2 separate regions of the Homo sapiens genome follow, and region 2 is linked to region 1. The links come from fine-mapping of genetic effects on plasma protein levels. A gene starts in region 1. The other region holds a variant in brackets. All regions are shown on one strand. Distances are from middle to middle.

Region 1 (5,375 bases):
CGAGTTCAAGACCAGTCTGGCCAACATGGTGAAACCCTGTCTCTACTAAAAATACAAAAATTAACCAGGTGTGGTGGCAGGCGCCTGTAATCCCAGTTACTCAGAAGGCTGAGGCAGGAGAATCACTTGAACCTGGGAGGTGGAGGTTGCAGTAGCCGGGATCATGCCATTGCACTCTAGCCTGGGCAAAAAGAGTGAAACTCCGTCTCAAAAAAAAAAGTAGATTCACTGAGCCAACTAAGGCATAAGTGACTCTTCCTCTGCCCCCCTCTCATATGTAAATTGTGTATTCAGTGAAAGGCTGACAAAGACTCAGAAGAATGAAGCCTTCTCTTATCTACCTATGACCTGGAAGCCCCTACTTCGAGTTGTCCTGCCTTTCCAGACCGAACCGGTGCACATCTTACATACATTGATTAATGTCTCATGTCTCCCTGAAATGTATGAAACCAAGCCATACCTTGGCCACCTTGGACATATGTCCTCAGGATCTCCAGAGGCCGTGTCACATGTGTGTTCTTAACATTGGCAAAATAAACTTTCTAAATTGACAGACCTGTCTCAGATACTTTTGGGTTCACAAAGGAGTGCCTGACTGTTTTTTGGAATCCTTTGAAATCTACTGGCCGCTGGCTCTGCTCAGCAACGTCAGGCCCTGGGGGAAATCAAAGCCTCAGTGAACTCAAAAACCAACAAAGGGGAACTGCTATTCCCAGCTATTCCCTGGCTGCCTGGACTGTCCCAGGCCTGTGATGAAGCAGGGGGAGCCGCAGACACTGGGAGAATCCGACGCGAGTCATTGTGAAATAAACCAAGCTGGTCTTGGGGAGTCGGGCAGAGAAGGAGCATTTTGGAGACAAGGGCAGCTTTCATTTGCTCCTGAGATTTTGATCTGGGGCTTTATCATTTGATCCAGAGCTTGGAGGCTTGCATCTTTGAGAACATTTTAGGTGGAATAAATGGGTGGGCAGGATGGAGCTATTCATATCTCAATACTCACAGTGTCCCTGCCAGTGCTGGAGTCCGACTCTGCCTGCACAGGAAGCACGCACCCAGCAGCTCATGCTGACCGTCATGGATTGAGTCTAGATCCCAGAATGAGCGTTCTTGCCACAGCAAGTACTGCTAGGAAGTCACCTTTGAGGGGACTCCACCTGACAATGGTATTTGCAAGACCCCTTCCCGGGACTGCAATGCACACGCATACACACACACACGACATTTTTTCTGTCATCAAGCAGCTACAGGAGACCACCATATTATTCCCAATTGGCCACCAAACACATCCTTGTTACCACACTTCTTTGAGCTTGAGTTGTCATTAGTTACCTGGGACCTCGGCGTGTTTTCGTCTTCCCTCCCTCCCTTCCTCTCTCCCTCCCTGTGAGGTTAAGAAAATAAAGATAATAACAGTGAAAATCTGGAGAACCCCACATGCTTCCTGCAGAGTGCTTTAGGAATAAAAGACATTAATGTCAGTTTTTTCCCCTGTAATTAAAATGTCCTTTAAGGAGGACTGCACACTTGACTGATGCACCCTGGGCAAAAAGCCAGAGGGCCAAACTGACCTGTGGAGACTTGTAGGGGTGGCACCTAGGGAGATCAGAGGCATTTCTCTATCCCACGGGGTAATGTGGGGTGTGAAAGCCACCTGCTTCTCTCTCCCAGCACCTAGCAAATAGTGCTCTGGAAGTAAGTCCCCCTCTGCCCCATCCACAGCCTCAGTTCCTTTCTGGGGGTTCATCGGGGGAGGGAGGAAACTAGGGGACCCAGCGGGCCCTCCCAGCTGTCACAGGCACGTGTCCCAAGGCAGCCGATTTTGCTTTTATTGCTTGCTCGTCTTGAGGTACTCCCATAGGCTATTTGGGGCTTTTCTGTATCGTTCTTTTCACTTTCCCCTTTACTCTGTCAGCAGAGGCTTCTCCAATGAATGCAACCTCCCTAGTCTCCCTTTCCCCGACTGCCTCTCCCCTCCAAAACACTCCAGCCTATCCCAATCACATGCAAATGCAAACAGACATCTCCCCTCTGGAGTGGATTCTAGCGGATCCTCTAGTTGCCTGAATTACAAAGTTGGTCCCTTGGTTAAAGCATTCCTTCACTGGCTCAGCTTGCTGGAAAGACTTTTAAGAGAAAGAAGAGGAGACAGACCCCAAGGTACAGAAACCCGACCTACCACGGCTTGCTCCTTCCCTTTCCTCGCAGAGGTTTTCTCTCCAGCCCTGGACTCCTGTAGGATCTCAGCTCTGAGCTCCCCACAGCTCCGGCCTCCTTTAAGTTTCCAGGCAGGGGGTGGGGTCGGTGGCCCCGGCTGGGCGGGTTTCTGTGTGGCGGGAGGATGCTCAGTGGACAGGGCCATGAGGGAGCTGAGGCAGGCCTGTTTTTATAAAGCAGGGGGAGGAAGTTCACGGTGGAAGCAGCACAGCCCATCCTGGCTTCGGGCCAGGCTGATTATTCACAGCCGTGATGTCATTGAATCGCAGGAATTTGGAAGTGGGATGGGACCTTAAGAATCATCTTCCTTTAGAGTCCTAGTGTCCCAGGCTTAAAAGGGACTTTCAGGACCCTGTGATGACAAGAAGTGTTTATAATTCTAAAGGCAGCAGGTTGGGGCTGGGAGTGGGGTGTCTTCTGGAATCTGTGGCTGTAGCTCTGGCCTCTCAGGACATGAGAGGTTAAAAGGACTGGAGGATGCACAAGGATTGGAACACTTTGTGTGGTGGCGGGAGCTCAGGGGGGTAGCCACTGAGAAGGCAGGACCAGCCTTGGGCTCACCTGCGGTAGGAGGTGCCCCCATGGGGGTTTGCTCCGGTAGGCATCTTTGGCCCTGTTCTGTAATTTTAGGGAGAATCTTTCTCTTCTTTGTAAAGTGCAGGGCTGCAGTAGGTGGCCTCCGGGGACTTTCCGGCTCCAGCATCCCCTTGAGTGGGCCCAGGGAATATACACAGGGCCTTGGGGCCAACATGCCTGAAATTCGATCAAAGCCATCAGCCCTTAAGCCCACCGAAGCCTTTCAGTATTTGCTTGTAAAATGCCCCTGGAAATAGACAAGCCATTTCCCTTGCTGACACCTTTTCAGATGACTGAGAAATAAAAGCCCTGTCGTGTAGGGGAAAGTCTTAGGTTTAAATCCGGCTGTGCCAGTAACTGGGATATGACCTCAATCAAGATTTTCAACTATGCTGAGCTCTGGCTTTTGCATCTGCAGGTCACGTGAGGATCAGAGAGAAGCCACGCATGTCAGGGCCCTGGCACATCACAGGGCTCAGCAGGAGCATCTATCATCATTGGTTCATGTCTGGCTGAGACCAGACCTTGTAAAAATGAGAGAGAGGTGAAAGAAAGAACGCAGGGAGGGAAGAGAAGTTTGGCAGAGGAAATTGTGGGATGACCGACTATTCAGGAGAGGCCAGATTTCATACATTCTGATCCTAAATATACTCATATTTGTCAAACCATGAGTGCTGAGTTTGAAGTTGAAAGGCACCTAACTGCTTTTCACATTGCTTTCAAACTGTTTTTCACATTTTTATGAAGCTGCAGCCCTGCTGATGGTCATTGTAGAAAAGGGGCACTGGGGTGGGTTGCCTGCTGAGCACGGGAGGTAGACCTCCCATGAGCAGCAGCAGCTGTGGGCCTGTCTGGTGGGCATGGGGCTGCTTTCCTGCAATGTGGTCTAAGATGGTGAGGATGGAGGCTTTTTTGGGGGGTGGGGCATTGCCGTTCAGCAGGGAGTGCTGGTCATGAGGACTCTCATTTGAACTCTTGAGAGGATGGTTTTCCACTGAATGGTTGCACTTAAATCCTGGATCCTGAACCTCTATGGAAAACAATATGGAGATTTCCCAAACTAAAAATAGAACATCCATTTGACCCGGCAATCCCACTACTGAGTATCTATTCAAAGAAAAAGAAATCATTACATCAAAAAGACACCTGCACTCACACGTTTATCACACACAATTCACAACAGCACAATTCACAATAGCAAAGGCACAGAATTAACCTAAGTGTCCATCAATGGAGGACTGGATAAAGAAAATGCACATATACACCGAGGAATACGACAAAGCCGTAAAAAACAATGAAGTCTGTCTTTTGGAGCAACATGGATGAAACTGGAGACCATTATCCTAACTGAAATAACTCAGAAACAGAAAGTGAACAACCACATGCACTCACTTATAAATAGGGGCTAAACAACGGGAGACTGAGAGGAGAGGGTTTGCAGATCATTAGCAGGGGCCCTGAGCTTTGCTGAAATATACCCGAATGATTAAGACCCAGCAATATCCTGCAGCCCTAGAAACTGGGGCCTCTGTGTTCCTTCTGAATTGAGATTGGTTTCCCTCGGACAGATTCTGGGGAAGCCTGAGAATGCAGAATTAGGCATGGGCAGGCTGATAAGGTGACAATGGGAGCCTTGATTTTAGTCAAGGGATCACTTCGAGGAAAAGAAAAGAACAGAAAAAAAGGAAAAAAATCTTGGTGACCTCACATCCTGTGAACATTTCATCAAAGCCCTTCATTTTCAAAAAAGAGAAATAAATCCAGGCCTAGATAACACGGAGACAAAGTGGGCACAGAGAAACTGGACGGGGAATTGCTGCAGGGCTTTTCCCAGCCAGCCTGGCTGTTTCTGCAGTGGGCGCCTCCCCCACAGAATGCATGAGTCATGGAGGTGGCGGGGGCAGAGAACAGGGGCTGCTCCAACCCTTCTCACTGGGGCAGGTGGCAGGATGGGTATTCGAACGAGAGCCATGCTGGGACTCTGCTCAGCTGGGTAAGAAATGATGTGATGTCTCTGGAAACTCAGAGAAAGGAAGAGTGGGCAAGAAACTTGTTTTTTTTTTTTTTATTTTCTTTTTTTTTTTTTTGAGACAGAGTCTTGCTCTGTCGCCCAGGCTAGAGTGCAGTGGTGTGATCTCGGCTCACTGCAACCTCCACCAGGTTCAAGCAATTCTCCTGCCTCAGCCTCCTGAGTAGCTGAGATTACAGGTGCCCGCCACCACGCCCAGCTAATTTTTTTGTATTTTTAGTAGAGACGGGGTTTCACCATGTTGGTCAGGCTGGTCTCAAACCCCCGACCTCGTGATCCACCTGCCTCAGCCTCCCAAAGTGCTGGGATTATAGGTGTGAGCCACCGCGCCCAGCCAAGAAACTTATGACAAGGATGTTTTGGACCAGAAGACGGACATTCTGTGTCTAAACTAAGATTTAATTTTGGTAGCCATCTGGCTTTGCAGGGGATGGGGTAAATGTCATGATGGATCTAAAATCGGTGTTATTGTCGCACGCCTTGTCTAGGTCTCCATCTAGACTGGGAATCCCCGGCCCTGGGGCCATGGGCTGGTATCTGTCCGTGGCCTGTTAGG
Region 2 (5,375 bases), 21 kb before region 1:
AAGTGCTGGGATTATAGACACGAGCCACTGCACCTGGCCCTATATATATTTAGAACTTAAAAAAAATCTTTCATAGTGCTGTGATAAATGTGATAAGTAACGTAATGATTTGTATAAGCACCACTGAATTCATAGTACCTTTCTGTAACTTAGCATTTCATTTTTTTCTTTTTTTTGAAACAGTTTTTTGTTCTATCACCCAGGCTGGAGTGCAGTGGCATGATCTCGGCTCACTGCAACCTCCATCTCCCAGGTTCAAGCAATTCTCCTGCCTCAGCCTCCTGAGTAGCTGGGATTACAGGTGCCTGCCACCGTATCCGGCTAATTTTTGTATTTTTAGTAGAGACAGGGTTTCACCATGTTGGCCAGGCTGGTCTCAAACTCCTGACCTCAGGTGAGCCGCCCGCCTCAGCCTCCCAGAGTGCTGGGTTTATAGGCATAAGCCACTGTGCCTGGTCTTGTAACTTAATATATATTTTTTCAATCTTGGAAGTTTTTTTTTTTTTTTTTTTGCATTAAAAAGTTTGAGAGGGAGCGAAAGAGAGACAAAGCCCCATTCACCCATTAATCAAAAAAGGGAGAATCTCCATTCATTCTCAAAAGGACTGAAAACCACTGATTCAGCCCCATCCTCTCCTCCATAGAGGAGGAAATTGAGGGTCAGAGTGTGAGGAGATCAGCTCCAGGTCAGACAAATAGCCAGTCAGAGGCCAAGCCCAGGCACAGACCTAAGTCCTGTCTTTCTTCCCTCTGCAACCAAAATGACTCACTCCTGGCCTCCCCCTTTCTCCCCTCAGGTGCAGGAGGGCTATCGGCCTGTCCTCCTGGACTTTCCTCCCCCAGGGACATTCAGGGAAAGGCGGGGTGGCTGCCACTTACCCTCAGAGCAGGCAGGGGTGCTGCAGAACTCTGAGCTGTACTTCCCCGCCTTAAAGACGTAGCACCAGGGCTTTGAGTCTCGATCTGGGTTTCTGAAAAATCAGCCAAGGGAAGGGCCAGGGTAGGTCAAAGGTGAAGCCTCTCCTTTAGGACCCAAGGACTTTGGTATCCTTTTCTGGAGGAATGGGGGGTGCTTTTTTTTTTGACAGAGTCTCGCTGTTTATCCCAGGCTGGAGTGCAGCGGCGCATCTCCTCTCACTGCAACCTCCGTTTCCTGGATTTGGGCAATTCTTCAGCCTCAGCTTCCCGAGTAGCTGGGATTACAGGTGCCTGCCACCATGCCTGGCTAATTTTTGTATTTTTAGTAGAGACAGGGTTTCACCATGTTGGCCAGGCTGGTCTTGAACTCCTGACCTCAGGTGATCCACCTGCCTTGGCTTCCCAAAGTGCTGGGATTACAGGCGTGAGCCACCACGCCCAGCCGGGAGTGCGTTTTTGGTTGTACACTGGTAGTTCTATCATGTTAGGCAGGAGTATGATTTTGTTCCTGTGTTTACTTGGAGGTGAAGGATGGTTTAAGGAGATGCACATGGGTGCCAAATTGACAAGGTGTGGACTGGAATAGTCTTATATGTCAACTTGGCCAGGCTGTGGCACCCAGTCAGTTAACCAAACATTCATCTAGGAGTTGTGAAAGTGTTTTATAGATGTGGTTAATATCTACAGCCAGTTGACTTTAGAAAAGGAAATTGTCCTAGATAATGTAGTTGGGCCTCGTCCAATCACTTAAAGGCCTTAAGAGCAAATATGAGGTTTCCTGAATAAGAAATTCTGCCTTAAGAGAGCAGCCTCAGCTTCTGCCTGCACTTCCAGCCTGGCTTACCAAGATGTTTCGGACTTGCCAGCCCCCACGATCCTGTCAGCCAGTTCCTTAACATAAATGTCTATCTATCTAGTGTGAAAGGAAAATAAATCTCAGGACCCCAACGTCATGAGCCAAGGGAAATGTCAAGCCGGGAACTACGTCAGGCAAACCTGCCTCTCATTTATTCCTCAATAAGATAGCTGCAAAGTTTTTTTTTTTTTTTTTTAATTCTCTACAAGGACATTCCTTGCAGGCCTAAAGATCTTTACCCTAAAACAGTTCTGTTGACTTTCACCTTGGCATTGTAAATGGATAGCTTATCTTCCCAGGTGCAGGACAGAAAATCATCCCTCTGCTCATCTGAGACAAATGCGTATCTGATTGCTTCCTCTGCCCTATTTTTTATGTAAAAATGCAGATGAACTGAGCCAGACTCAATTGTGTGTTCAGTGAAAAGCTGATCAAGGACTCAGAATACAGCCTTTTGTCTCTTATCTACCTATGGCCTGGAAGCCCTTGCTTCGAGTTATCCCAACTTTCCCGACCAAACCGATGTACATCTCACACATGTTGATTGATGTCTCATGACTCCCTAAAACGTCTAAAGGCAAGCTGTGCCCTGACAACCTTGGGCACATGTCCTCAGGACCTCCTGAGGCTGTGTCACGGGGGTGTCCTTAACCTTGGCAAAATCAACTTTCTAAATCGATTGAGACCTGTCTCAGATACTTTGGGTTCACACACATTCTCTCTCTCTCTCTATTTCTCTCTCCTCTTTCTCTATCTCTATCTCTCTATCATCTATCAATCTGTCTATCATCTATCTATCTATCATCTATCATCTTACATCTACTATCACCTATGTATCTATCATCTATCAATCTTCTATCATCTATCAATCTATCTATCACCTATCATCTATCATCTATCATCTATTTATCATTATCATCTATGTATCATCTATTTAATCATCTATCAATCATCTATCATCTGTCAATCTGTCTATCATCTATGTGTCTATCATCTATGTATCTATCATCTATCTTTCTAATCATCTGTCTATCATCTACCACCTATCATCTATCATCTATCCATCTATCATCTATCTACCATCTATCATCTATGTATCTATCATCTATTTATCTATCAATCATCTATCAATCTATCATCTATCTATCACCTATCATCTGTCTATCTGTCATCCATCTACCGTCTATTTATCATCTATCTATCATGTATGTATCATCTATTTATCTAATCTATCACCTATCATCTATCATCTATCAATCTATCATCTATCACCTATCATCTATTATCTGTCTATCATCTATCCATCTATCCATCCTGTATTGGTTATGTTTCTTGGGAGAACCCTGACGGATCTGACAGAATCTTTCCCCAGCTGTAGCAGCTTCTCACAGGGGGAATCCCTCCTTGGGGATGTGCCCTCACCTGCAGTAGTTGTGGTTCCCCAGGCCCAGCCTGATGGCGTCTGGCCTCC[G/A]CCCGCTGTAGGGCTTCTGGGCCAACGCGCTGCTGTTCCAGTTGGTGCACTCGGCGCCACTCTCCGCTGTGCTCCACGTGCCCCTGTAGCTGATGCCCTGGTCCTCGTAGCACGTGGCCCTGGTATCTGACAGAGAGCAGGGCATGGATGCCTCACATGGGAGTCCCCTTTCATTCAGCCCTCAGGAGGCTCCCCTCTCTGCCCCGTCCTCCCCCAGGCCTGATGCAGGCTGGCTCGGAAGCCACAGGCTGGGTGGCAAGGGTGCCAGCCTGGATTCAGGGTCACACCTAGGCTCTGCTTGCTGTGTGGCACTGTGCTTCCTGACCCATGGCAGAAGCGCCTTCCCTGTCCCTGGCCCCCACCCCTGGCCCTGCCATCGCACCCTGCCTTTCCTTCCGGGGGCGGGGGAGACTGGAGAGGTGGGATTTCAGCTCGTTTCACGTGCTCTCACCTACTCACCTATTTCACAGCACTTCCCAGCAAATCCTTCGGGGCACTGGCACACGAAATCTGAGAAGTACAGGGCCTGCTGGCAGGTGCCCCCGTTGAAACACCTTGGCTCGCTGCAACCTGTCAAGTATAAAAAAGGAAGCCCCTAATGACAGCCTCCTTCTGTGTGCTCAGGCCATGGTTCCAGGAGCCCTGTCTACCACAATCCACACACACTCAAGTCCTGCAGCGTGGAACACGCGTATACCAGTTCTGCATCCTACAAATACTGTTTTCATCCTGCCTTTGGTTGAAAAAAATCCATACATAAGTGGACCCTGCAGGTCAGACAAGTGTTGTTCAAGGGTCCCCTGTATTTTCAAAGCAGCTCCAAGGATGATGTGAGTTAAAATATTAAGAATGTGCTCTATGTGCCAGGCGCTGTTGTACAGTCTACAAAAATTAGCTAATTTAATCCTCACAGCAAACCATGAAGTGTGTACTGTTATTCCCACCTCTTTATAGATGAGGAAACTGAGGCAAGCGGGCATTTGCCCAAGGTCACTTGGTCTTGCTCCCTTTTCTGCTTGTACCTTCACCTCCGCCTAAGGCCGAACAGGCCTGGAGGCTCCTTTTGAAGATTTGAACTTTCCGGGGACCATGAAAGACAGGGTTCATGACTGGACCCCTGAACTCGAAGTCTCAGTTTGAAGTCGATTTGTACTGGGCTTTTCTGTGTTTTTGTTTTTGTTTGTGTTGTTTTGTTTTGTTTTAGAGGTGAGGGCTTGCCCTGTCACTGAGGTTGAAATGCAGTGGCACAATCGTAGATTACTGCAGCCTCCAACTCCTGGGCTCAAGTGATCCTTCTGCCTCAACCTCCCAAGTAGTTGGGACTACATACCAGGTCTGGCTAATTTTTTTATTTTTTGTAGAGACAGGGGACTTGCTATGTTTGCCCAGATTGGTCTTGAACTCCCGGGCTCCAGCGACCCTCCCACCTTGGCCTCCTAAAGTGCTGGGATCACAGGCATGCACCACCTCCCAGCCTCAGTACATACTTTTGACAGGCACTGAGTGGCACTGTGCCCTGCCACTGTTGCACCAGCAATATTCCACCCGGTTGCTTCTGAGCACAGGGCGCAGCCATGACTGATGTTGCTGGTATATCATCTGCGTTTTTTCATCTCTGCAGATCACTATGAGAAAAGACAGGCCAGCCTCATCAGAGTATGACTCAAAATGAAATGCCTCACTACCCTTGCACCTACTGAGAAAACTCCCTCACTTGCTTTCTATAGACTCCATTGCATACTCCCTTATTGAAGAGACACAACTGGAAGACAACAAGATAATGAATACTGGCCAAACACGGTGACTGATGCTGGTAATCCCAGCACTTTGGGTGGCCGAGGTGGGTGAATCACTTGAGCTCAGGAGTTCGAGACCAGCCTGGCCAACATGGTGAAACCCTATCTCTACTAAAAATACAAAAATGAGCCAGGCATGGTGGCAGGTGCCTGTAATCCCAGCTACTCAGGAGGCTGAGGCAGGAGTATTGCTTGAACCCAGGAAGTGGGGGTTGCAGTGAGCCGAGATTGTACCACTGCACTCCAGCCTGGGCGACAGAGCAAGACTCCATCTCAAAATAAAATAAAATAAATTTGCATTTCTTTTCTGAGTGCCATTGAGTATCTTCTCATA

Which allele goes with the higher level. Positions count from the first base shown, and alleles are read on the strand shown. Strength reflects both the effect of a copy and how common the allele is.
As copies of G replace A in region 2, the plasma level of the protein whose gene starts at base 2,248 in region 1 goes up (moderate association).

The links. A credible set is the group of variants that fine-mapping cannot tell apart. PIP is the posterior inclusion probability: the model's chance that the variant is causal. Protein levels are from antibody-based Olink assays in UK Biobank. Linkage for the fine-mapping came from a reference panel and not from the study's own genotypes, which makes the PIPs less certain.
Region 2: its variant is the best candidate, but not a certain one, in a credible set for the plasma level of the PLAT protein (UK Biobank, PIP 0.60). The variant lies in the coding sequence of PLAT. If it changes the protein, the assay may bind it differently, which can mimic a change of level.

The regions. Positions count from the first base shown.
Region 1 is chr8:42,205,318-42,210,692 of GRCh38, forward strand. PLAT (plasminogen activator, tissue type) reads right to left here and starts at 2,248. Exons shown (of 14, transcript NM_000930.5): 1 at 2,177-2,248. RefSeq lists enhancers at 2,749-3,267, 3,268-3,786.
Region 2 is chr8:42,184,202-42,189,576 of GRCh38, forward strand. PLAT (plasminogen activator, tissue type) reads right to left here. Exons shown (of 14, transcript NM_000930.5): 4 at 4,733-4,870; 5 at 3,705-3,815; 6 at 3,197-3,371; 7 at 880-971. Among named protein-coding and RNA genes, the nearest start is that of PLAT, 21 kb to the right of the region's middle. RefSeq lists enhancers at 2,862-3,433, 3,434-4,004. The variant G/A (reference allele first, on the strand shown) is at 3,246.